Linked DNA regions of Homo sapiens: regions 1 and 3 are each linked to region 2. Evidence: fine-mapped expression QTL. A gene starts in region 2. Each other region holds a variant in brackets. All regions are shown on one strand. Distances are between the middles of the regions.

Evidence for each region.
Region 1: its variant is fine-mapped to the expression of NOS2 in tibial nerve (GTEx, PIP above 0.99). The same link has a PIP of 0.9 or more in T cells, blood mononuclear cells, breast, caudate, cerebellar hemisphere and cerebellum.
Region 3: its variant is fine-mapped to the expression of NOS2 in lung (TOPMed, PIP above 0.99).

The regions. Positions count from the first base shown.
Region 1 is chr17:27,874,710-27,882,942 of GRCh38, reverse strand. It overlaps LYRM9 (LYR motif containing 9), which reads left to right. Exons shown (of 4, transcript NM_001076680.3): 2 at 231-374; 3 at 2,577-2,669; 4 at 3,453-4,585. The coding sequence starts at 249. The coding sequence ends at 3,470. Among named protein-coding and RNA genes, the nearest start is that of LYRM9, 15 kb to the left of the region's middle. RefSeq lists an enhancer at 288-978. The variant G/T (reference allele first, on the strand shown) is at 3,555.
Region 2 is chr17:27,796,369-27,804,627 of GRCh38, reverse strand. NOS2 (nitric oxide synthase 2) reads left to right here and starts at 4,099. Exons shown (of 27, transcript NM_000625.4): 1 at 4,099-4,289; 2 at 5,746-5,928. The coding sequence starts at 5,819. RefSeq lists cis regulatory regions at 602-741, 1,400-1,535, 3,562-3,584, an enhancer at 3,897-3,925 and promoters at 1-4,135, 3,894-4,186, 3,069-4,186, 1-4,266.
Region 3 is chr17:27,773,684-27,781,683 of GRCh38, reverse strand. It overlaps NOS2 (nitric oxide synthase 2), which reads left to right. Exons shown (of 27, transcript NM_000625.4): 8 at 507-648; 9 at 778-917; 10 at 2,628-2,802; 11 at 2,893-2,994; 12 at 7,233-7,427. Among named protein-coding and RNA genes, the nearest start is that of NOS2, 23 kb to the left of the region's middle. The variant G/C (reference allele first, on the strand shown) is at 4,600.

The DNA of each region.
Region 1 (8,233 bases), 78 kb before region 2:
GGCTGTAAGTCTCCCTCCACACTCACCTTTGGTCTTGTGGGCCTGCTCTGGGCTAGAGCTTCTGTTGAACTGAATGCCCACCCCACCCCAAGGTGCAGGCTCCATGGGATGGGACAGGAGGGGCCTCTGCACTGCACCAAGCTTGCTTCCCAGAGTACTGGGAACTGGGGGTCAGGGCTGAGTACTGAACTTGGCTTGATGCCCTGGAAGTGATCCTGCTTGTTTTCCAGGGACAGAGGGTCTCACGGATGGCCCCGCTGCCAGGAGCAGAACTGGTTCGGAGGCCACTGCAGCTCTACCGATACTTGCTGCGCTGTTGCCAGCAGCTGCCGACCAAGGGCATCCAGCAGCATTACAAGCATGCTGTCAGGCAGGTGCGAGCTGGCTCTACCAGGTCTGGGGGCTGCCTCTAATGGCAGGCTTAGGGGCGCAGGTCAGAGGCCAAGGCCAGGGCACAGAGCTAGTCTCTGAGATGGTGGTGAGGTGGCAGTGTGGGAAGAGCCACAGGAAACCAGTGCTGGGCAGCCCAGCTCCTCTCTGTCCAGGAAACAGAGGGTGCCTCACCCAGCACACCAGCTGTGCTAGGGCATGCATGAGGCAGCTAAGTGGGTAATTAAAATAGACTGTGGGACACGACATCATTTAGGCAGGCATCCCTGCCAACAGTGCACAACTTGAATTTAATCCTGAGAAAACATCAGGTAAAACCAAATCGAGAGGCCATCTACCACATAACTAATAGGCCTGTACTCATCAAAAATGTCAGTGTCGTGAAACACAACGCTGACATTTTTGATGTTCTGGATTAGAGAACTCAAGAGATATGGTGACTAAATGTAATGTATGATCCTAGACCAGAAAAAAAATGCTGTAAAGAATATTATTGGGAACCAGGCATGGTGGCTCATGTCTGTAATCCCAGCATTTTGGGAAGCTAAGGCAGGCAGATTGAGCTCAGGAGTTCAAGACCAACCTGGGCAACATAGAAAGACCTTGTCTCTACAGAAAAATCAAACAATGAGGTGGGAGGATTGCTTGAGCCCGGAGGTCGAGGCTGCAATGAGCTGTGATTGTGCCACTGCATTCTCACCTGGGTGACAGAGTGAGACCCTGCCTCAAAAAAAAAAAATGAATATTACTGGGGCAGTGCATGAAATTGGAATATGGGCTATGGATTATAGAGTTGTATCAATGTTGAGTCTTCTGAATTTGATTACTGTGGTTATGTCAGAGAATGCCCTTGTCATTAGGAACTACACATGGGAATGTTTAGGGGTAAGGATAGCGTGTCTGCAACTTACTCTTAAATGCTTCTGAAAAAATTTATACATACTTATATAAAGAGAATGATAAAGCGAGTGTAGCAAAATGTTAACAGTCAGTGATTCTGGTAGGAAATTCTTTGTATTATTATCACAACTTTCTGTAAGTGAGAAATCATTTCCAAATAGAAAGTTAGCTAAAATTCATACACATATAATATGGAAAGTAAAAAAAAAAAAAAATCAGAGGTGGCGGTAGCCACAGAGGGCTGTGGAAACATGGAGAACGAGCAGTTAGCTGTCTGGGGGAGTCAAGGAGGGCATGCCAGAGGTGGATGCTGAGCGGGGGGCGCTCCTAAAGATGAGCAGGAGGATGTGTGGGGCTGGGAGTGACAGGGGAGGGAGGTGCCAGTTCTTTTTTTTTTTTTTTTTTTTTTTTTTTTGAGATGGAGTTTCACTCTTGTTGCCCAGGCTGGAGTGCAATGGCTTAATCTCAGCTCACCACAACCTCTGCCTCCTGGGTTCAAGCGATTCTCCTCCCTTAGCCTCCCGAGTAGCTGGGATTACAGGCATGTGCCACCACGCCCGACTAACTTTGTATTTTTAGTAGAGATGGGGTTTATCATGTTGGTCAGGCTGGTCTCCAGCTCCCGACCTGAGGTGATCTGCCCGCCTCGGCCTCCCAAAGTGCTGTGATTACAGGCATGAGCCACCATGCCTGGTGCCAGTTCTTTTTGAAAAGCAAAACCTGAATCTTAGGTTGCTTCTCAAGGATGAATATCTGGTCAAAAGCAAACAGTATCCCATGCTCTGCACTGGGCCTGGGTGGATTTCCTGAGGCCACTCTATCTACTACCTCCCCTCCCTTCCCTGTGTAGCTCTCCTAGCACTGGGCCGAGAGAAGTCCTACTTCTTCCTCCCTGCTGTAAAGCCTATGCAGAGATCTCACCCTGGGGAAAGCAGCGTCTTCTGAGGAAGAGAGATGGAAGTTTCCCCTTGGACTCTACTGCCTGATAGCCTTTGGGCCTAGCTTGATTTGGCAGTAACTTGGGGGCCAGTCTTTTTGCACCTACCTTGGTGGCAGGAGTACATGCTTTGCAGTCACATAGACTAGGATTCAAATGCTATTGTTCAGCAGCAAGTGAGCCTCTGTTTCCTCATCTCTGTGTGGGATAATCATAACAGTCTATGGAGGATGAAGAGAGCTGCTGGGTATAAAGTGCCCAGCAGTGTCCCTGGCCTGTGATTGGTGCTCTGAAGCTGCCTGTCCTGGGAATTTTGCCTAGTCATCTTTCTTTATGCTTAAACTTGCAGAGTTTTCGGGTTCATTCAGATGAAGACAACCCTGAGAGAATCCAGCAGATTATTAAAAGAGCCATTGAAGATGCTGACTGGATCATGAACAAAGTAGGTGCTTGGCCCCTGGGCTCTGCCTGCGAGCTGGGGTGATGATGGCTGTGATCCCCATGACCACTAGAGGCCACTCCTGCCCCACAGTTGAGAATGGTCCCTGTGGAGGAGGCCACCAGCCAGCTGCTTCCCTCCTCCAGAAGCTGAAAGGTGAAGACAAATCCCTTCTGGTTGCATTTATATTCTGCAAGTGGGGAGGGGCTCTCACTCTTCATCCTTAAAGGCAAATTTCTGCCCAACAGTGCTGATCGAGCTGAGAGGGGGCAGCAGGAAGAAGGAGGGAAAGCTATAGTGCCAGAGCCGGCGGTGGCACTGTGATGCCGCAGAGAGGGAAGCTGTCCTGGCGGGGGACTCCCTGTCTCTGGGGGGTATTCACACTGGGGCAGAATTATGGAGGAAACATTCAGTATGTTTTGGTGGAGGAAGGGAGTGAGTCAGGAATGTAGACTGGCGTCTTGGCCCTTAGATGCTGGTATTAGAAGGACCTAGAGAGTTGGAGTGTGACCATACCTCCCTGTCCTTCTAACTCACTCTCCAGAGTGAGTTATCACTATCCTCCCTCCCCAGCCCTGTCAGCTTCCTTTTTCACTAAAGAAGAAAGGGAGTCCAGGCATGAACTAGAGATTTGGCTGCCCAGTGCCTCCTGCTTGGGTTTCACCACCTCCAAGAAGCCCCTGCAGGAGGCAGGTGAGGTCCAGATGATGGAGGCCTGAGATTTCTCCAGAGTCCTCCTGCCCCTGTTGGCTTCCCTCCTCCACTTCGAATCTCTCTGTCTTGCAGTATAAAAAACAAAACTGAGAGCTCCGAGGGTGAGCCTTCCTGGCCTCTGGAAGTTGAGAGGCCCCTCTTCTGGAGCTCAGCAGCAGCAGCTGGTTTGGAAGA[G/T]CCATTGGCCTTGTTGGCTGAAAGCCAGAAATCAGGGGAGAAGCTGACCTTGCTCCAGAGGCTCCTCTTGCCGCGGCCATGTTGCTAGCATCCTTTATGTTTGCACTTCCAGCCACTTACGATGTGAAATTTGGGGAGAATGTAGTATTTTTTTGCTTCTTTTGTGTGTTTTTTATTTTTGTGTTTTTGTTCTTTTACTTTTCTCTGAAAGTGATTCATTTATTCTGGAGATCTCTTTATCATTCTCTGAGTCCCAGAGCAGATGTCCCCTCAGGTAGCAACCTGTACAGAAGAAAGCACGTGGGTTTTAGAACCAGACAGATCTGGATTTGAATCCCAGATGCAATAAGATGAAGGTGAAGTGCCTCACACAGGATGTGGCACATGACAGTGCCTGAAGGGCTCCCTTCAAGGAAGCCGTCCTGCCCCGCCCCCTCCTCTGCTCCTGCAGCGCCCTGCACAGCTCTGCTCCCCGCATGCACCGCATCGGGTCTCAGTTTTTTGTTTGCGAGCTTGCCCTGTCCCTGCTTGTAGCCCCTGAGCCCTCACAGTTGTCACACACCCAGCAGTCTGCCAAGGAGCTGCTTTTCCTGACTACTGTCTCTCCATGCCTAGGGAAGTCAAAGCCCTGGGCCTTGCCTTCAGGGAGTTGACAGTGTCCTTGAAGTGGTGAAGTGCCCACCACATGAACCAAGGAGAGACGCCAAAGCAGCTGCCATGGACTCTGGCCTGTCCAAGCCTCTGTGCACCTGCAGTCTCTTTCCACTGGCACTTCCCTGCTTTGCTACCATCGTGGAAGAATGGAAGGGAGGGGGAGAAGGTGGGTGGGCTCAGGGAGAACGGCCAGAGTGGCCAGAAGATGCAGAGAGAAGCCCCACTGGGATCTGAGTATTCCCCAAGGGCACTCAGCCACAGGGATGAACTAGTGTTTGTTTGTATCCTTGCAGTTATGTGACTTAAAGTGACTCAGAGATATCTATGTATGCGAGTGTACTCCGCTGGCAATGAAGTAAATATATCAATTTGTGGAAGCTCGTGTGTCTTCTCAACTGATAAACCATACGTTCCCTAAGCATACGTTGTCTCCTTCCTGAGTGTCATCTACTGTTGAGAACCTAGAGTCAAGTCAGACAAAGCTGCCCAGGAGGGGTCATTCTTCAGAGAAGGTGACTGGGATTGGCCCCACTGCTAGACAACAGTTGATGAGGTCAGATCTGCCCCACCAGGGTATGGGCAAGCTGAGGGGTTTCAGGCTAGGGCCAAAGCTGAGCCAGGCCCCTGTCTGCACCCCTGCCGTTGAGCTGGGGGCCCCTCCTCAGGTGGCAGGGCTGTATTGTGATCATAGGAGTGGGGGCAGCTGTATCCCAGATGTTTCCCCAACAGGAGAGAAATGATTGAAGGCTGACAAGGGTTCAGGATAGAGTTAGTGTCGTTTGCTCTTGACCAGCTCCTGGAGTGGTTCTATGACCTTTAGTTCCTAGGTAGGTGCTTGGTCCAGCTGTGCTGACTTGCCACATGTCAGACAGTGGTTGCCTAGCTCCAGCATGTGGCTGGCCTGTGAGGGAGCCAGCAAGGGGTGGGGTGGGTGAACAGTGTGTTGGCTGCTCTCCCCCAGCCCCTGTGCTGCCACAGAGGGTAGTGAGCCCGGTCATGCAGGGGCCCACGGTAGGGGAGGCAGGATGCACACAGCACTGTGCACACAGGGGCACTGTTGAAGCCTGGGAGAGCCTCCCATCCTCAGCAGCAGCCTTGCCTTCCACCCTGCCCTCTGACTTCCACTACTCCAAGCCCTGCGTGGACCATGCGTATGGGTCCTTCATTTCTCCTCTCAATTCTCAAATGCATAGAGTTGAAGGTTTACAGAGTAGCCTCCAAGCAAATGGAAGAAGGAGATGAAGGTCTCACCCAGAGTCAGCCAGTGTGGCCTGCTGGAGGGGGCTCTGGAGATACAGACACCTGAATTTGAATCCCAGTCTGTCACTTAGTGGTGGTGTGATTTGGGGCAGATTTGTTAACCTGTCAGGCTCACTTTTCTCACTGCTACAGGTTGCACATCCCATGGGCTGGTGAGATTACGGCAGTGCACACAGATGGGCTGTCAGCCATGTGGCCTCCATCTCTTGTCTTTGGTTTACCTGGTGATGACACTTCTCTCCTTTTTCTTTTCCTTTTTTTTTTTTTTTTTTTTTGAGATGGAGTTTTACTCTGTTGCCCAGGCTGGAGTGCAGTGGCACAATCTCAGCTCACCGCAACCTCCGCCTGCCGGGTTCAAGTGATTCTCCTGCCTCAGCCTCCTGAGAAGCTGGGATTACAGACACATGCCACCACACCCAGCTGATTTTTGTATTTTTAGTAGAGTCGGGGTTTCACCATGTTGGCCAGGCTGGACTGGAACTCCTGACCTCAAGTGATCTGCCCGCCTTGGCCTCCCAAAGGGCTGGGATTACAGGTGTGAGCCACCGCGCCCAGCTGATGCTTCTCTTTAGGTGGGTCCTTGCGGCTCTCCCTGGTGTCCACTGTACAAGCAAAATGTCAGCAGGAAAGGATTTGACACGTGTTGCCCACACTTAGATACTCCTTTGGACTCACATTGCCTTTCTGGGGTGCATTTGCATTATAAAGTTTCTGGGTTTATCTGTGTAGCAAAAGACAGATGTTAAAACCCTCAAGGGCCTTCTTTGCAAGACCCTGCATATCTGAGGCTGACTCCTGGGGCAGTGCTAGCCTTGAGTCCTACACCAGCACATGCTTCCTGGGGCAGAGCCTGTCCCGCCCTACGCAGTTCCATTTCTCGCCCCTGTGCCCACCCCATCTTCATTGACCATTTACTGCACAGTCTTCCCTCCACGCAGGAAGGGACTCACAGTCTAAGGGAAAGACAGACGTGGGTTGCCTGGAGGTTGAGCAACTGTGGCTCGTAGGATGTGATCATAACATAGATTTATCTTTTTCTCTCACAATTCCTTTGTATTTTTTTTTTCTGGAGGTTCCTGTTCTCCCTGTCCCTGGATGAAAACTGAGACAAAGCCTCAAAAATTTCTGGCTGGACTTAAATTTTAAAAACCCAAAGCTATGGCTACTTTGAAGTCACAAAACAGTTTCAATGCATGAAGTGAAATGTCCAGTCTCAGGAAAATAAAATTTCAAAACTTGAATTAAGGTTCAGGCATCTCCCTTTTTCCAGTTGGGATCTGCTGCAGAGAGGAAACCTCTGTCAGAGAAGGGGACAGAGGCATCTTTGCTAGCTTGGGGGAGGGGCATTTCAGGCCAAGGAGCACCACTTGTTCAGGGACTCGCATGCTGCTTGGTGTGGTTGAGACATCATGGTGGGTGGAGAAAATAGGGGTGGAGGTGGAGGGGATGAGGCTTGAATACACCACGGGAACCAAATCGTGCAGAGCCCTGCAGGCCTTGCTAAGGAGTTTGGACCTTCTCCAAAGGGGCGATTTTGTAATCAACTCTTTATGTAGTTGTCTCCTCCACCAAAGAGTGAAGCCGTTGAAGCCAGGAACCAGGTATTAGTCGTTGCAGAACCCTCCAGGCCAGTTGTGTGTCTGCTGCCCAGGCTGTGAGCTCTTAAGTGCTGGCTGAATGGAAAGAATGATGATCGCAGGCAAACTGTGATGTCTGTCTTTCATTTGTTTGTTTCTCACTGCTTTCTAGTAATGAGAAAGGCTGGGAGATGGTGAGTATTTCTTGGCTAAGTCTTACCGCCGATGGTTGGGAGCTGCTTTGGAGGAGGGAACACTTGCCCTCACTGCACAGTTGGCAGGCACTTCCTCCAGGAAGTTTGTCTTGATGCAGAGAGAGGATTTCCCCCAAAGTAAAAGTTACCAAGTGCTGAAATCCAACCTTCCTCCCATCCTCTTGAAATGAACCTGTCCATTTTGCCTCCCTAGTGGGTGGGGATTAACTTGAGCATCCAAATCAAACAAAACAGGCACCCTTTGTGCGATGATGGGGAACCATAGCTGTGGCCGATTTGCCCTGAGGGAGTAAACTTGTTAACTTGGGGTGGGTGACTGAAGTTCGAGATGCTGAGAGGCTTTAGAACAGTGCCTTACAGGGTGAAGAGCACCGTGTGGAGCAGGCAGGCACAAGGTCACCCCAGAAAGGCACATGGTTTCAACAACGAATCAGAAGCAGGGTACAGGGTTGGAGCTGGTTAAAGGAATCTGCTAATGAACTGCTCAGAGGCTGCAAGATTGCTTTTGAGCCTCTCCGAAGAAATGAAAAAATGTTTTTCAGTGGAACAGCTTCAAATATTTCCTTTAAAGATCTGGTGAGCAGGCCTGGCGCGGTGGCCTGTAATCCCACCCAGCACTTTGGGAGGCCAAGGTGGGCGGATCACAAGGTCAGGAGATCGAGACCATACTGGCTAACACAGTGAAACCCCGTCTCTACTAAAAATACAGAAAAATTTAGCCGGGCATGGTGGTGGGTGCCTGAGTCCCAGCTACTTGGGAGGCTGAGGCAGGAGAATGGCGTGAACCCGGGAGGCGGAGCTTGCAGTGAGCCGAGATTGCGCCACTGCACTCCAGCCTGGATGACAAAGCGAGACTCCGTCTCAAAAAAAAAATCTGGTGAGCAAAGGAGGAGGAACACTTACTAGCGTCTACTGCATCCCTGGACTGAGCAGATGATGAGGACACGAAGGAAGAATCAGTCCATAGACAGTG
Region 2 (8,259 bases):
AAAAGCCTTCAAAGTTGCTAACTTCCGAGGGCTAACTGGATCTGAACCATCTTCACAGCCTGGCATAGAAACAGATCAAATCAATCCAGTGGAAAATCAATTCCAGGATAATGAGCCCAAGACATTCCCGTGCTGATTGCTGTCAGCATGGTGCCTAGGACAGCCTGGGAAGGCAGGGAGGAGGGCATTTCTCCACAGCAGCCTCGGAACCTCTATCGCCACCCTCCGGGGGGCCCACCTGTCCCCCGCCTGCCCTTCAAGGTGCTCTTTGATTTCTCCCCAGCAGAATTCACCTGCTGCATCCATCATCAGAAGAGGCCAGGAATGCGGCCTGCTGGGTGGGCAGGGCCAAGAAGAAGGCAGCCGTGCAGGCCCAGGAAGCCGTAGGAGACTTGCCAACCTCCAGGAGGGGGCCAGCCCTGGACCCTGCAGACAGGCGCTCTGGGGAGGGTACCAGAAGCTCACTGTTTGTCCCGGCTTGAAGGCTGTTTGCTGTGTGACCTTGGTGAGTCTCCTAACCTCTGTGTATCATCACAATCATTATCACTATTTTTACTCTCCTCCTCTTCCTATTTGCCGGTTAAGAGAGGATTGGGATAGTGGTCATGGTTATACAACATTGTGAATATTCTAAAAACCATTGCATTTTACACTTTAAAATAGTTAATTGGTAATTTTATGTTATGTGAAATTTATTCCAATTAAAAATTAAAAATACATACATGAATTTAATGTTACAAAGGGAGAGAGAGGACCGGGAATTTAAAAGCAGGTGTTTGTGGTGGGACGGGGACCTGTCTGAGGAAGGATACTTCAGAAGGCAAGTCCTGGCATCCACTTGCTCTTTGTCAAAAGGGAAATTGTTACTCTCTGACTCCCAGCAAGGATAATAAATTCTTACTTGGCTGACTTTTTGCTCAATGGCTCAAAGCATTTTCTTGTATCTCGTTTATTTACTTTTATTTTTATCACCTTTTGTCACGAGAAAAGTCAGGCCCAGAGAGAAGTGGCTTTTCCAAGATCACATGGTAGGTCAGCAGTGAAGCTGTGCCTCGAACCTGGGACCTTTCAGGCTAAAGGAAACCAGAACATGCCACGCCCAGATATGCCGATATGGCATCCTGATTATCTCCAGCTGAAGGCATTTGAGAAAGAGCAGCTAGAGAGAGGGCTATCTGAACTGCCCTGTCCTGCCTGCAGCAAGCCATAAACATTCCTTGGAGAAAGATGCTTTCCCAGCATCAAGATGAGAAGATAACTTTTATCAGCTCAGAGATGGCACCAGAGCCATCTACAAATACAAACAAACCTTGCTATCCTACTCCTTAGCTCACTTCCACATGTTTACCTTCTCACAGCTTGCCACCCCTGGAAGCCTACAACTGCATTCGTCTTGTCACCTTTCTCTTCTTTCTTTCTTTCTCTCTTTCCTTTCCTTTCTTTTCCTTTCCTTTCCTTTCCTTTCCTTTCCTTTCCTTTCCTTTCCTTTCCTTTCCTTTCCTTTCCTCCTTTCCCTCTTTTTTTTCCTTTTTTTTCTGAGACAGGCTAGGGTGCAGTGGCGCGACCATAGCTCTCTGCAGCCTCTAACTCCCAGACTCAATTGATCCTCCCACCTGATCCTCCTGAGTAGCTAGGACTACAGTAGCTGGGCATGCCACCATACCCAGCTAATTTATTTTCAATTTTTCTGTAGAGATTGGATCTCACTATGTTGCCCAGGCTGGTCTCGAACTCCTGGCCTCAAGCAATCTGCCCACCTCAGCCTCCCAAATTGCTGGGATTCCAGGCATGAACCACCGTGCCCAGCCATCTTGTCACTTTCTAAAATGCATTGCTCTTCATGGCAGATGCTCCATAAGCCAGAGTTCTAAGCCGCAGCATTGAGTTACTTTCACTGAGGCTTCTCCTGCGTGGTGTGCATCACAGACATTAACAAACTTGCTTTTTTTTCTCTATTATTAATCTGTCTTTTGTTACAGTGTCTTTCCCAACAAATAACTTAAGATGATTGAGGAGAAATTATATTTCCTTCCCAGCTGGCTAATTCCAAATGTGTCCTCAAGCCTGGTGCTTGGACTCAAACCCTGCCACAGGTCAAGAATGCCACACCAAGCAGACGCTGTGTTAGAGGGGCACCTGAGGTGACATGTTTGACAGATCACATAACTGAATAACTGCATTTTCTGAAGGAAAATCAACGAAGTGCTTTGAGGCCAAGTAGATGGGATTCTTGAGGATTCCATGAATAGCAAATAGTAGTATCCCCCTCAGAGGCTCTTGGGTGGGGGCATTAAATGTGTTAATACATGTGTTTGCTGCAGGTATAGCCAGAATATGTGAAAGCAGCTACAGGGAATAGAGTGTAGCAAACTCCTAATCATCCCTCAAAACCCTGCCCTGGTGTCCTCTCCCTTGTAAACTTTCCTTGAACAAGGCAGAACCAGCTACATCAGCACCATACCATCCCTCCATCACTACAGATATCACTCTGTACTATAATTATCCATTTATTTTTCTAGGCCTTGCACTCCCTAAGGCCAGGATTCTGACTCTTTCCCTGAGTGCTGTTTACCTGAACTGAACCGGCATGAACCACCACGCCCGGCCATCTTGTCACTTTCTAAAATGCATTGCTCTTCGTGGCAGATGCTCCATAAGCCAGAGCTCTAAGCCGCAGCATTGAGCCGCAGCATTGAGCTGAAGCCTGAAGGGAAGATGGCTTTGATATGTTAAAACTCATTCCAGTTTACTCCTATTTTTCATTCATTCATCCACACATTCACTCAACAAAGATCCTTGAGCTCTGATATCCATGTCTTTTTTGTGGCTCTTAGTTTATCTTTGACAAAGTTAATATATTATGCTGAATTTAACTTGGGAAAGACAAGAAGGAAATGAGTGGACAGTGGTAGCAAAGTGTTGGGACGGTGAGATCAAGGGTGACTTTTTTTCCCTTTGCTTCTCAACTTCTCCCTAATGTAGTTGTTATTTTACTTTTATGATGGAAAAATGCATATGTATGGGAATACTGTATTTCAGGCATTATAAGGAATGAAATTATAGGCCGGGCATGGTGGCTAACCCTTGTAATCCTAGCACTTTGAGAGGCTGAAGTGGGCAGATCACTTGAGCTTCAGAGTTCGAGACCAGCATGGACAACATGGTGAAACCCAGTCTCTACCAAAAACACAAAAATATTAGCTGGGTGTGGTGGTGCATGCCTGTAGTCCCAGCTACTCAGGAGGCTGAGGTGGGAGGATCGCTTGAGCCTGGGAGGCAGAAGTTGCAATGAGCAGAGATCGTGCCACTCCGCTCCAGTCTTGGTGACAGAATGAGACTCCATCTCAAAAATAAATAAATAAATAAAATAAATGAAATGAAATTATAAGAAATTACCACTTTTTCATGTAAGAAGTGATCATTTCCATTATAAGGGAAGGAATTTAATCCTACCTGCCATTCCACCAAAGCTTACCTAGTGCTAAAGGATGAGGTGTTAGTAAGACCAACATCTCAGAGGCCTCTCTGTGCCAATAGCCTTCCTTCCTTTCCCTTCCAAAAACCTCAAGTGACTAGTTCAGAGGCCTGTCTGGAATAATGGCATCATCTAATATCACTGGCCTTCTGGAACCTGGGCATTTTCCAGTGTGTTCCATACTGTCAATATTCCCCCAGCTTCCTGGACTCCTGTCACAAGCTGGAAAAGTGAGAGGATGGACAGGGATTAACCAGAGAGCTCCCTGCTGAGGAAAAAATCTCCCAGATGCTGAAAGTGAGGCCATGTGGCTTGGCCAAATAAAACCTGGCTCCGTGGTGCCTCTATCTTAGCAGCCACCCTGCTGATGAACTGCCACCTTGGACTTGGGACCAGAAAGAGGTGGGTTGGGTGAAGAGGCACCACACAGAGTGATGTAACAGCAAGATCAGGTCACCCACAGGCCCTGGCAGTCACAGTCATAAATTAGCTAACTGTACACAAGCTGGGGACACTCCCTTTGGAAACCAAAAAAAAAAAAAAAAAAAAGAGACCTTTATGCAAAAACAACTCTCTGGATGGCATGGGGTGAGTATAAATACTTCTTGGCTGCCAGTGTGTTCATAACTTTGTAGCGAGTCGAAAACTGAGGCTCCGGCCGCAGAGAACTCAGCCTCATTCCTGCTTTAAAATCTCTCGGCCACCTTTGATGAGGGGACTGGGCAGTTCTAGACAGTCCCGAAGTTCTCAAGGCACAGGTCTCTTCCTGGTTTGACTGTCCTTACCCCGGGGAGGCAGTGCAGCCAGCTGCAAGGTGAGTTGCCTTCATTTCTGGGGAAGCGGCTGTTTTGAGAGGGTTTTGTTTCTTCCTCTTTGAGAAGGCTCAGAAAATTGTGGGAATTTTCTGCCTACAGAGAGAAGGTGTTGGAAAGTCTAGGTAAAAAAATGCCGACATGAGGTTTGGTCATTTGAACATGGCATCTTGGTCAGATTTCTTTTCTGCAAATATTAGCTGTGGTTGTTACATGACAAGGAAAAACTTTCTGAAAAGTTCAAAATGGGAGTTTGTATCTGCTAAGAATTTTTTTTAACAGAGATTATCTTATCAGTCCTTATAACATGTAACCTCCCCACAAATCCTGGTAAGATGGATATATTAAACCCATTTTATGGATGAATAAATGAGTTTCAGTTAAATAACTTGATCCAGGACACATAACTGGTAGAGCTAGGATTCCAGGATTTGAACCCAGGTCTATGGGGCTATAAGTTCTTTTCTTTCTTTCCCTCTTTCCTTCCTTTCCTTCCTGTCCTTTCCTCCCTTCCCCTCCCTTCCCTTCCCTTTCTTTCTTTTTTTTTTTTGGAAACAGCCTTGACTGCCCAGCCTCAAGCAATCCTTCTGCCTCAGCCTCCCGAGTAGCTGGGACTACAGGCACAAGACACCATGCCTGCCTGGCTAATTTTTCAATTTTTTGTAGTCAAGGTCTCCCTATGTTGCCCAGGCTGAACTCGAACTCTTGGACTCAAGCGATCCTCCTGCCTCGGTCTCCCGAAATGCTGGGATTACAGGCGTGAGCCACTGCACTTGGCCTAAAATTCTTACATGGACTATATTCACTACACTGTCTTCTAAAGACAGAGTTTTTGCCTCTTTGATCTTCCTCTTGTCTGTTTCAAAGGAGATGATCTCAGATTTCGAGGGATGAGTGCATTTTTCACAAATATTTCCTCCCCACATAATAAAAGAGGAGCAAGTAATAATGCTGAGTTAGAACAACAACTGCAAAATCTTTAAAAGAAAGGTAGCTACAGCTTGAGTGCTTTCCCCAGTAATAGACCTAAAACTACAGTTGATAATGAGAGCTGCTGGGAAGTGTCTTTCAGGGTCAGGCAAAGGCACCCCTGTTTCAACGACCTCCGGGCTCTTCCTCACCCTGCCTGTGGCCAGTGATGAAGCCTGGCTGGGTCTGGTGGGCCAGCAGGTCCCGCTAAGGAGGCTCATGGTGCATACAGTTTGTCCTTGTTAAGTGGCGATGGGGATGGGGGGGTTCATTGTTTTTCCTTAAGATTATTAGGTGGCTTTACAGAATTGAAGTCTGTGTCCGAAGGCTCCCCATTCCAACCCCGAAATAGAGACAGAGGTTGCAAAGCATTGATGAAGGGGCTCATGCTGGCGTTCATATCGATTCCCCAGTGAGCCAACCCCACTGAGAAGCCCTGTTCTGTAAACTCTTCTTCAACCTTCCCTCACCTCTGCTTCCCTTCTTCAGCCCCACAGTGAAGAACATCTGAGCTCAAATCCAGATAAGTGACATAAGTGACCTGCTTTGTAAAGCCATAGAGATGGCCTGTCCTTGGAAATTTCTGTTCAAGACCAAATTCCACCAGTATGCAATGAATGGGGAAAAAGACATCAACAACAATGTGGAGAAAGCCCCCTGTGCCACCTCCAGGTGAGTTTTCCCTGGGGGAACCTCCTGCTTGTCTCCTTGGGCACCCATGCCCTGTCGGCACCGATGACTCAGAATTCCTCTCTCTGCTCCTCCTCTCTCACCTGAGGTCTGATCTCCTCATTGCTTCTTGAAAGTCCCTGTTGGAATTCAATGCAGCCGCTGATTATTGGGCACCTCGCTGTGCCTGACGGTATGTGAAGAAGGAAGGGACATGGTGCGGGGCTGGCCCTGAAGAAGCTTGGAATCTTTGGGGAAGAATATGGGAAGGAGCTTGGCCTGAGAATGGGAGGCAGTAGAGCCTCGTGGTGGGCACCATGGCGGAGGGGTGGGGGTGGAGGGTCAGCATCCTGGCCTGCGTCCATTCCAATTCACCGCTTGCTAGATGCTTTGAATATCATCCTGGTGAAGGGCATCAGGATGTTAGACAAACTAGTTCCAAGCCCTGTGCTGGCCGCACTAGTTGCCGGGTGCTGCCTCTAGCCAGCTGTGTGACGCAGGGTAAGTTAACCTCTCTGAAACTTAGTGCTCACCTGTGGTATGAGGAACCCAAGGGGGCCCTCACCATAGTGTGCTGAGGATGAAATGAGATCTACAGCACTCAGCACTGTGCCCACACAGAACAGACACTTAGTCCACATCAGGGTTCATCACCATCTACTGAGTACCTGCCCTTGCCAGAGCTACACAGGCCACTTGACAGACTTTGCATCTCAACTGATCTCTGTGGCGGCTCTTTGAAGTTCATATGATTGACTCATTTCACAGATAAGGAAATAGAAGCTCTAATAGGATTATGACTTCCCCCAGCCTGAATGACCGGTAATTACAGAGTTTACAGAGTTGGAACTTGAGCCCAGATTTGGATTCTTCATGTCCCTCCTCCCCGGGCCCATCCTTCCTCCCAGGGCAGAACCAAGAGAATGAGTCAGTTAATGAACAAGTCAAGGGACAGGCTTGAGGCTCGCTCAGGTGGAAAGACAAAGCAATCTGCAATAACGCAATAGTGCAACTGAAACCAAAGCCCCCATCTACACAAGACCACCACATAGCCACACAACCCCACCGCCCCAGAGGAGCCTTTCCCATGGACTACAAAGGGTAGGGCGCCCCCTGGATGTGTACAGCATGACGGCCCTGAGTGTATCTGTCAGAGGCGGCAAAAAATGCCAGTGGCTAAGAGGATGGGCTTGGGGATGAGCAAGTGGCTTTGCCACTCAGTAGCCCTGTAACCTTTGGCAAGTCCCCTAGCCTCTGAGCCTCAATTTCCTCCTCTATAAGAAGAGGGTAACAATGGTGATTTCCTGGAGTTGGAGGAAGGAGTAAATGAGCTTTCCCATGTGAGCAACTTAGCACAGGGCCTGGCCTGGAGTAAGTGCTCAGCAAATGGCACTGTTGGCATTGCTATCATTAGCGGTGGTGTTGGCAGTTAGGAGGTGATGGAGCAAAATTGAACAGAGTTCCCTCTAGGGGCTTCACAGAAGTCAGGTGGACTCTGTGGCCTTTGAAGTATGGGTAGAATGTAGACAGGTGCAGAGGAGTAGCAAGGACATTCAGGAAGAGGGGAGAGGTGAGCAGAGGCTCAGAGGCAGAAATGAGCCTGACTGTGCTTGGCCAGGAGTGGGCTGGGGGCTGGGATAGGCAAAGCCAGGCCAGAGCACAAGGGCTTGAATGCAGGGTAGGAGATTTGGACTCGCTCTCCCTGGCAGTAGGGAGCCATTGTAGGTTCTTGAGCAGGACAGTCTAGCTGTGGTGTGGTAGGTGAATTGGAGGAGAGGACTTTGAAACCAGGCAGTCTGGGCTATGGCAACTGAGGTGGCTAAGAGACCAAGAGGTGAGAACACAGAGTTGATGGCCTCTAGATGTCCAGATTCTAAGGGCTGTAGAGGGGCAGTGGCTTCGCCCCTTCCTTCTCTTCATCTCATCATTGCAGCCGCTGCCAGCTGACCTCCCTGACTCCAGCTCCCCACACTGGCTCTGAGCTCTCTCTTGCCAACTGGACTTCTAGCAAGTCACGCCCCTATTCTAGAGCCTGCAGTGGCTCCCCATTGCCTGTCACCACATTAAAGCTTCCACAGAGTTCTGAGCGAGCACCCTACCCAAATGGAGAGCCCATCCCACCTGCCCATCCCAGCCTTCCTCAGCTCCCCAGTGCCTGTGCATAGCACATTCCTCCCTCAGCTCATCCAGACCCAACTCATCCCCTATTTTTTTCTTTTCTATTTTTATTTTTTATTATTATTATTTTTAGACAGGGTCTCACTCTGTTGCCCAGACTTCAGTGTAGTGGCTCCATTTCAGCTCACTGCACTGCAACCTCCACCTGCCAGGTTC
Region 3 (8,000 bases), 23 kb after region 2:
CCTCTCCCAACCAACGAGGTCAAAGCTAATAGGACTGAACAGCTCATTTGGTCATTCATTCATCTTTTTGTTCAGCAAACACTCAGTGCCTACCTAATGCAACTCAACACAGGACAAGGCTGGGAGAGCAGGGGGAAGATGGGGTATGGGGGGGTAGGAGGAAGAGTGACTAGGACCCTAAGATGCTGCTCCAGCTGGTGTGAGCCTATGACCTGCACTAGACAGGCAACCAGCTAACTCAACTGCAAGGACGGAGACATAGGCAGTGAGGGAAAGACTGGCAGATCAGCTAACCCTGCCTGATGGATGGGAAGGCCCCCTTGAGGGGGTGGACCCTGGGTCTTGAGGGAGGGCAGCAGGAGAAGGCATGTCAGGAGGCTGGCTCAGTCAGCTTGGGATCAGGGGCTGCAGAGCAGGTAGGGTGGAGAGGGAGGTAGGGCCAGTGCAGGATGGCTGGGCCCCCACCAGGGCTAGGTGGTAAACAGTACTGTTCCTGTCCTGGGAAGGTCGGCCATCACCGTGTTCCCCCAGCGGAGTGATGGCAAGCACGACTTCCGGGTGTGGAATGCTCAGCTCATCCGCTATGCTGGCTACCAGATGCCAGATGGCAGCATCAGAGGGGACCCTGCCAACGTGGAATTCACTCAGGTACCCGGCCCAGCCTCAGCCACCGGCCATTGGGGCGGGGAGCCCCGTGGTGAGCGAGTGACAGAGTGGAGCCCAGAGGAGACACGCAGCCCGGGCTTACAGACTCACAGGGCCCGTCTTGTTCCCCAGCTGTGCATCGACCTGGGCTGGAAGCCCAAGTACGGCCGCTTCGATGTGGTCCCCCTGGTCCTGCAGGCCAATGGCCGTGACCCTGAGCTCTTCGAAATCCCACCTGACCTTGTGCTTGAGGTGGCCATGGAACATCCCAAGTAAGTAGGCTGAGGGTGCTGGGGGCAAGGGCGAGTCAACACACAGCCCTTCTCCTTTCCTAAGTGCGGCTCCAGCCTTCCCCATACCTTCCCTAAAGCCCAGCCAGCAGCAGGTGACACTCAGGGGGCTGGCCTTCAAGGACTCTTTTGTCACTGTTGCATTCTGCAGCCATTCTGCACTGGCACCTCGGGCCTCAGACAGGTGGATGTGTTGATGCTGAGGGGAAGCAGAGGCTTAGGCGGATGGGGCCCCAGGAGCTTGAGAAGCAGTGACTGCAGGAGAGGAATGCATTGAGATTCTAGAAAGGAGCAGCCCAGGCCTCTTCTGCCCTCCTGCCAATGCTCTTAGCTGTCCCTCTCCTGTCGGGATCATATAGGGCTGCAGTGACTTCAAGAGTCCTACTGGCCCAGCCCCTGCTCTAGGCAGTTCTCATAATTGCAAAAATACCTCTGCGTATTGAGATTTACTCTGTAGCAGACATTGGGCTGGGCTCTTCTTCCTGGCCGTTGAATGAACCAAATTCAGTCCTGACTCACAGCCTTTGTACTCCCTGTTCCCTTTGCATGACATGCCTTTTCCTCAGAATTTTTCTAGGCTCATTTCTTCTTGTCAAAAGGTATTTCCTATAATGTCACCTCCTCTGAGAAGGCTCTCTGACCACTCAAGCTAGAGGAGGCCCCCTTACCCTCAGTCTAACACATCATCTTGTTTTTATTTCTTATATATTTGTTTACCCATTTATAATCTAGAGTCTAGACATTAGACTACAAGTTCCTTGAGGGTGGAGATCTTTTCTTTTCTGTTCACAATGTATACCCAACAGCTAGCAGAGTGCCTGGCACATAGTAGGTGCTCAGTTATAAATATTTGTGGAATAACTGAATATACAAGTGAATGATATTACTAGCTTTATAATAATTCCATGAATTTGATGCTATGTTTCTATTCTGATAATGGGGATGTTGAGGCTCAGAGAGGCTAAAAAACATCCCAAGTTCACACTGCTAGTCAGAGGCAGAACTTGAACCCCAGCTTCTGACACTGGAGTCCTTAATTGCTCTGTTGTGTTGCATTCTCAGCATTTAGCACAGAGCCTGGCACATACTTGAAGCTTAATATAGGTTTGCATGAATGAATGAGTGCATGAATGCATAATTTAATAAATGGCATCCTATGTGTCCAATACGTCTCTCTGGCTGGGATTAACTCAGAATCAACTCTTGGAAAGGAGTTTTCTTGTTTGACTCTTTCTGAAGCTTTTTTCTTGGTGGGCAGGTGGGGGGTCAGTGGGAGGCCAAAGGTGCAAAAGTGAAGCCCCCAGCGCCAGACAAGGTAGTTCACACCTGTAATTCCAGCACTTTGGGAGGCTGAGGCAGGAGGATTACTTGAGGCCAGTAGTTCGAGACCAGCCTGGGCAACATAGTGAGACTCTATAAAATAATAATAATAATAATAATAATAATAATAATAATAATAAGGAAAAAAATTAGCTGAGCAAGATGGCACATGCCTGCAGTCCTAGCTACTTGGGAGGCTGAGGCAGGAGGATCGCTTGGGCCCAGGAGTTAAAGGCTGCAGTGAGTTATGATTGTGCCACTGCACTGCACTCCAGCATGAGCAACAGAGCAAGACCAAGTCACTAAAAAAAAAATAATAATAAAATAAAAATAAGGAAGGCCCCAGTTAAATTGTGTCTACCTTTTTGCCAGATACGAGTGGTTTCGGGAACTGGAGCTAAAGTGGTACGCCCTGCCTGCAGTGGCCAACATGCTGCTTGAGGTGGGCGGCCTGGAGTTCCCAGGGTGCCCCTTCAATGGCTGGTACATGGGCACAGAGATCGGAGTCCGGGACTTCTGTGACGTCCAGCGCTACAACATCCTGGAGGTAACCCAGCCAGCCCAGCTGGCCAGATGAAGGTGTGGGCCTGGGGGTGGCTTCAGGGACCGACTCGCCGCTATCACTCTGCCTCTGTAGGAAGTGGGCAGGAGAATGGGCCTGGAAACGCACAAGCTGGCCTCGCTCTGGAAAGACCAGGCTGTCGTTGAGATCAACATTGCTGTGCTCCATAGTTTCCAGGTATGTCTGGAGTTTTGTGAGTCTGAAGACTTTTTGGTGAGAAGCTTAACTGATCCAGTGACTTATGTGATGCTTAATTTATAAGTAAGCCCCCTTGCTCACTCTAGAGGTCCAGCAACAGGCAGCTCCTCACCTCCCAAGACTGTTCAATCCCTGTACTTGAGCACTGAATTCTGTCCTCTCTCAATCGCTCAAGGACTTTACTCCCAAAAATTTTCCTCTTCTCTCTCTGTATCATCAATGTCTCTCTCTCTGCTGAGTCATTCCCAGCAGTGTACAGACAGGCTCTCTTAGCCCCATTTCAAAGAAAGAAATGAATAGCTAACCACATAACTCCTGCCAAACCTCAGGCTCCCTCCAGCCACTGCCTCACCCTTCTGCTCCTTTCTACAGCAAAACTATGGAGAGATCTCATTGTGCTTCCTCATCCCCCAACTGCTTCAGCCTGGCTGGGCGACAGAGCAAGACTCCGCTCAAAAAAAAAAGAAGGCCTCCCTGACCGTGCCATGTAAAATGACGCCCTCACCCCACTGCCAACCTGTCTCTCTGTGTTAGTCCTTTAACCATTTTATTTTTCTTCAAAATACTTCCTCATACAGTTCCTGGCATTATATAGGACATCGACTTTCTTCTTTCTTTTCCTTTTTTTTTTTTTGAGACATCATCTCACTCGGTCACCCAGGCTGGAATGCAGTGGCATGATCACTGCAGCCTTGACCTCCTGGGCTCAAGTGATCCTCCCACCTTAGCCTGCCGAGTAGCTGGGACTACAGGTGCATACCACGCTTGCCTAATTTTTATATTTTTAGTAGAGATGGTGTTTTTCCATGTTGCCCAGGTTGGTTCCGAACTCCTGGCCTCAAGTGATCCGCTTGCCTCAGCCTCCCAAAGCGCTGGGATTATAGGCATAAGCCACGGTGCCGGGCCAGCTTTCTTTATTGTTTGGTTTCCCCCACTAGAATGTAAGCTCCATGGGGCAGGGACCTTGTCTGTCTGTTTGCTGCTGCACCTCTGGCCTAGAAGAGTGTCTGGCACATGGTAGATGCTAAAATAATTTGTCTTTGAAGAATGAATGATGAGGGCCACATCCGCGATCTGGCCTGGCACAAACTGGGTCTTCAGTCCTTGTCTGACGTGTGCATGAATGAGTGATGCTGGGAGGGGACCTGTGAGCTGTGGCTGCTCTTGCTTGCTGTGCGAGGATAACAACCTCCACCTCCTCTTAAGCCCACACACAGCCGCTGGGCTCCTGTGTAGGGCTAAGCCCTCAGGCCCATCCGCTGCTCTTACTCATAGAAACACTTCCCTTCCCTGTGGGAAGGAGGCCTGAGATGTAGGAAGATACTACTTTAGAAGCCACAGCCATTGCCACAAAGCTGACAGATGCCCTGGAGACCCCACCACTGGTCAGTCATTCATTCATTCAGCAGTGTTTTACTCAGCATTTGCCTGGTGCTGGGCACTAGGCTGGGCCAAGGATGTGAGTGGTGAACAGAGTACAGATGAGCACACACTGTTCCCCATGACTGGGTCACCCCATAGGCAGATCAGGCCTGTGCTTGACGGGGGAGGGGAAGATGGAACAGGAAGAGCCCCCCGGTGTTT[G/C]GGGAAGGGCTGGCTTTGCACCACACATCCTGACTCCTGGGGACTCCCAGCACCAGCCCTGATGCTGGCAGGATGTGGATACGTCCCAGAAAATCTGTGAGCCTCTGCTGTCTCCTCACCGTGGCTGACTGTGTCCTTCCACTGCCTGAGCGTCTCCAGGACTTCCTCACCACCCTCCTTCAGGGTAAACTTCAAAAGATGGGCCCTTGTTTCCTCCTCTGTAAAATGGGGATAATAGTGCCTCCCTCATCTGAGGATTATAAGAGTTAAGTAAAAATGCATGCAAAATGTTTAGCTGCACTGCCTGGCCCATAGACAACACTCAGTAAGCAATGATTTTCTTACTGTTTATTATGTTGTCATCATGATCGTGGCTACCACTGAGTTTTTTTTTTTTTTTTTTTTTTCCTTTGGAGATGAACTCTCCCTCCATTGCCTAGGCTGGAGTGCATGGTGTGATCTCGGCTCACTGCAACCTCCGCCTCCTGGGTTCAAGCAATTCTCCTGCCTCAGCCTCCCAAGTAGCTGGGATTACAGGATTGCACCACCATACCCGGCTAATTTTTGTAATTTTAGTAGAGATAGGGTTTCACCATGTTGGCCAGGCTGGTCTCAAACTCCTGGCCTCAAGTGATCCACCTGTCTCTGCCTCCCAAAGTGCTGGGATTACAGGTGTGAGCCACTGCACCCATCCTGTAGCTACCACTGAGCTTAGAACTGATCTGGCTCCCAGGAGTTGCTGTGTCTTGGAAGAATAAGTGAATGAGAGCCCACGTCCACAAGAGTGGTGGCCGGACTTTTATATACACATATATAACTTATGTATGTCTATTGAATTTACAAGGCATGGCTGGCCTTCCCAGGCCTGACACCAGCTGGATCCTCTCATGCCTCCCTGCCTTGACTCATGCAGTGCCCCACTCAACTAACTTGCACCCCTCTCACAAGTCTCCCTTCCTCTCAGGAGCTGCTCCCGAAATTCGCCAACTCACCCTGGGCCTCTGTCTGGCGTTGTATCCTCTCTTCTGCCCTTCCCCAGCACCTTTGCCTGCCTCCATCAGAGTTTCTATCAGGCCGTGTGAAAATGACTGATTTTCCTTGGCTTCCCCACCCAGTTAGACTAGACTCTAATGCAGAGAAAGGGCTGTGTCTTTCCCTTCTATAACGCCGATGCCTTATGCAGTGCCTGGCAGATGGAGATTATAAGAGCAGCTAATATTTATTAAGCACTTACTATGCTTTGCTTATTCCAGCTTATTGCATCCTTTCAACAACCTCATGATGTAAGAACTTTTTTTTTGGAGACAAGGTCTTGTTTTGTCACCCAGACTGGAGTGCAGTGGCCCAATCATGGCTCACTGCAGCCTTGACCTCCTGGGCTCAAGCAATGCTCTTACCACATCAGCCTCCCACATATCTGAGAACACTGGCATGTGCCACCAAACCTGGCTAATTTTTAAATTTTTTTGTTTTTGTTTTTTTTAAGACAGAGTCTCGCTCTGTCACCCAGGCTGGAGTGCAGTGGTGCGATCTCGGCTCACTGCAACCTCCGCCTCCCGGGTTCAAGCGATTGTCCTTCTTTAGCCTTCTGAGTAGCTGGGATTACAGGTGTGTGCCTCCACCATGCCTGGCTAATTATTATATTTTTTAGTAGAGACGGGGTTTCACCATGTTGGTCAGGCTGGTCTCAAACTCCCGACCTCAGGTGATCTCCCCGTCTCGCCCTCCCAAAGTGCTGGGATTATAGGTGTAAGCCCCGACAGCTGGCCTACTAATTTTTAAATTTTTATAGAGACAGGGTCTCACCATGTTTCCTAGGCTGATTTCAAACTCCTGGGCTCAAGCAGTCCTCCCACCTCGGCCTCCCAAAGTGCTAGGATTACAGGCATGAGCCACTGCACCTGGCCATTATAGGAATTCATATCACTCCCATTTCACAGATGAGAAAACTTAAAGAACTAATTGCTCAAGGTCACATGGCAAATAAAAAGCCAGAGTTTGAACCACTGTGTTAAACAAATGTCTCTTGACTGAATGGGTTGCCACAGACATAGAGGCCAGTGGCTGCCTTGCTGGACCATTCCATGGGGTCAGACCCCACAGCCCGTAATTTCAGACTGTGAGTGATTCGTCTCCCATACACTACAGTTCTCCCAATGCTTCAGACCTCCCCACGGAGGGGTCTGGCTCCTTCTTGGCTGAGGAGGCTACAACCCCATGGAAGTGACTCTTAGAACTCTCCACCATAAATGGCTGGGATGGTATTTCCTTTACCTGCCAAAAGGTGCTGTGGTTTAAGTTATGCAGATCCAGAGAGAGCCATTTGCTGGGAGTCTGGGGAGACCTGTGGGCATGAGAGGCTGGATATTGCCCTCAAAGACTTAAGGGAGGCCCCCATGGGACCTGTGGGCTGACCCTGACTAATGTGCTTTCTTGGGCTCTGTCAGAGGCTCCACAAGCGCCTTCCATTTGGGTGTTTATTTTCAGCAGGCAAGGAGAGGGCCAGGAGTTGCTCTCCCGTGTTACAGATTGCCAGGCCTTCCCAGGCACTCTCTGGGAGCCCTGCGGCCAACCGGCCCCTCTCCTGATTCCCCCACCCTTATCTCCACTCCCTATCTTGCCTTCTGATACAGAAGCAGAATGTGACCATCATGGACCACCACTCGGCTGCAGAATCCTTCATGAAGTACATGCAGAATGAATACCGGTCCCGTGGGGGCTGCCCGGCAGACTGGATTTGGCTGGTCCCTCCCATGTCTGGGAGCATCACCCCCGTGTTTCACCAGGAGATGCTGAACTACGTCCTGTCCCCTTTCTACTACTATCAGGTTAGGGGCCTTCCTCTTCTCTCCTTCCTGGGGGCTCAGATGTGGCTGTATGTGTGTGTGTGTGTGTGCACCTCATTGTTACACATGTAGGGCACGACGGGAAGCAGGAGTATGTTGTTAGAGCTTTCCAGGCCCCACTCAAGGATGCTGAGCAGCCTTTGTGCATTTCCACGGAGAGTGGCACTGAAGGAAGTGGCTTCCACTGCACCGCTAGTGGCCTGTGGCTCAGATGGGGGGTCTGTCATTACACCTGCTTCCACGGGAGGGCCCGGCAACAGTCACTCAGCAGAGTGTTGAGGGGATTGGCCCCTGAGTCAGACGCTATTGATTCTGCCACTTCCTAGCAATAGGGTCTTGGGTGGGTCCTTTCACCTTTCTGAGCCCTGATCTTCTCATCTCTAAAAGGGATGGGCTTCACTCCACGACGGGGGGTTGTGTGGATCACAAAGCTGGTGTATGGAACAGCTCAGCCCAGTGCCCAATGCAGAATGCATTCAGTAACCATGAGCTATTGAGAAGAGTTCATTTTGTGCCAAAAAGGACTTGGGTTGGATTTTAAGAGCTTCCTTCATC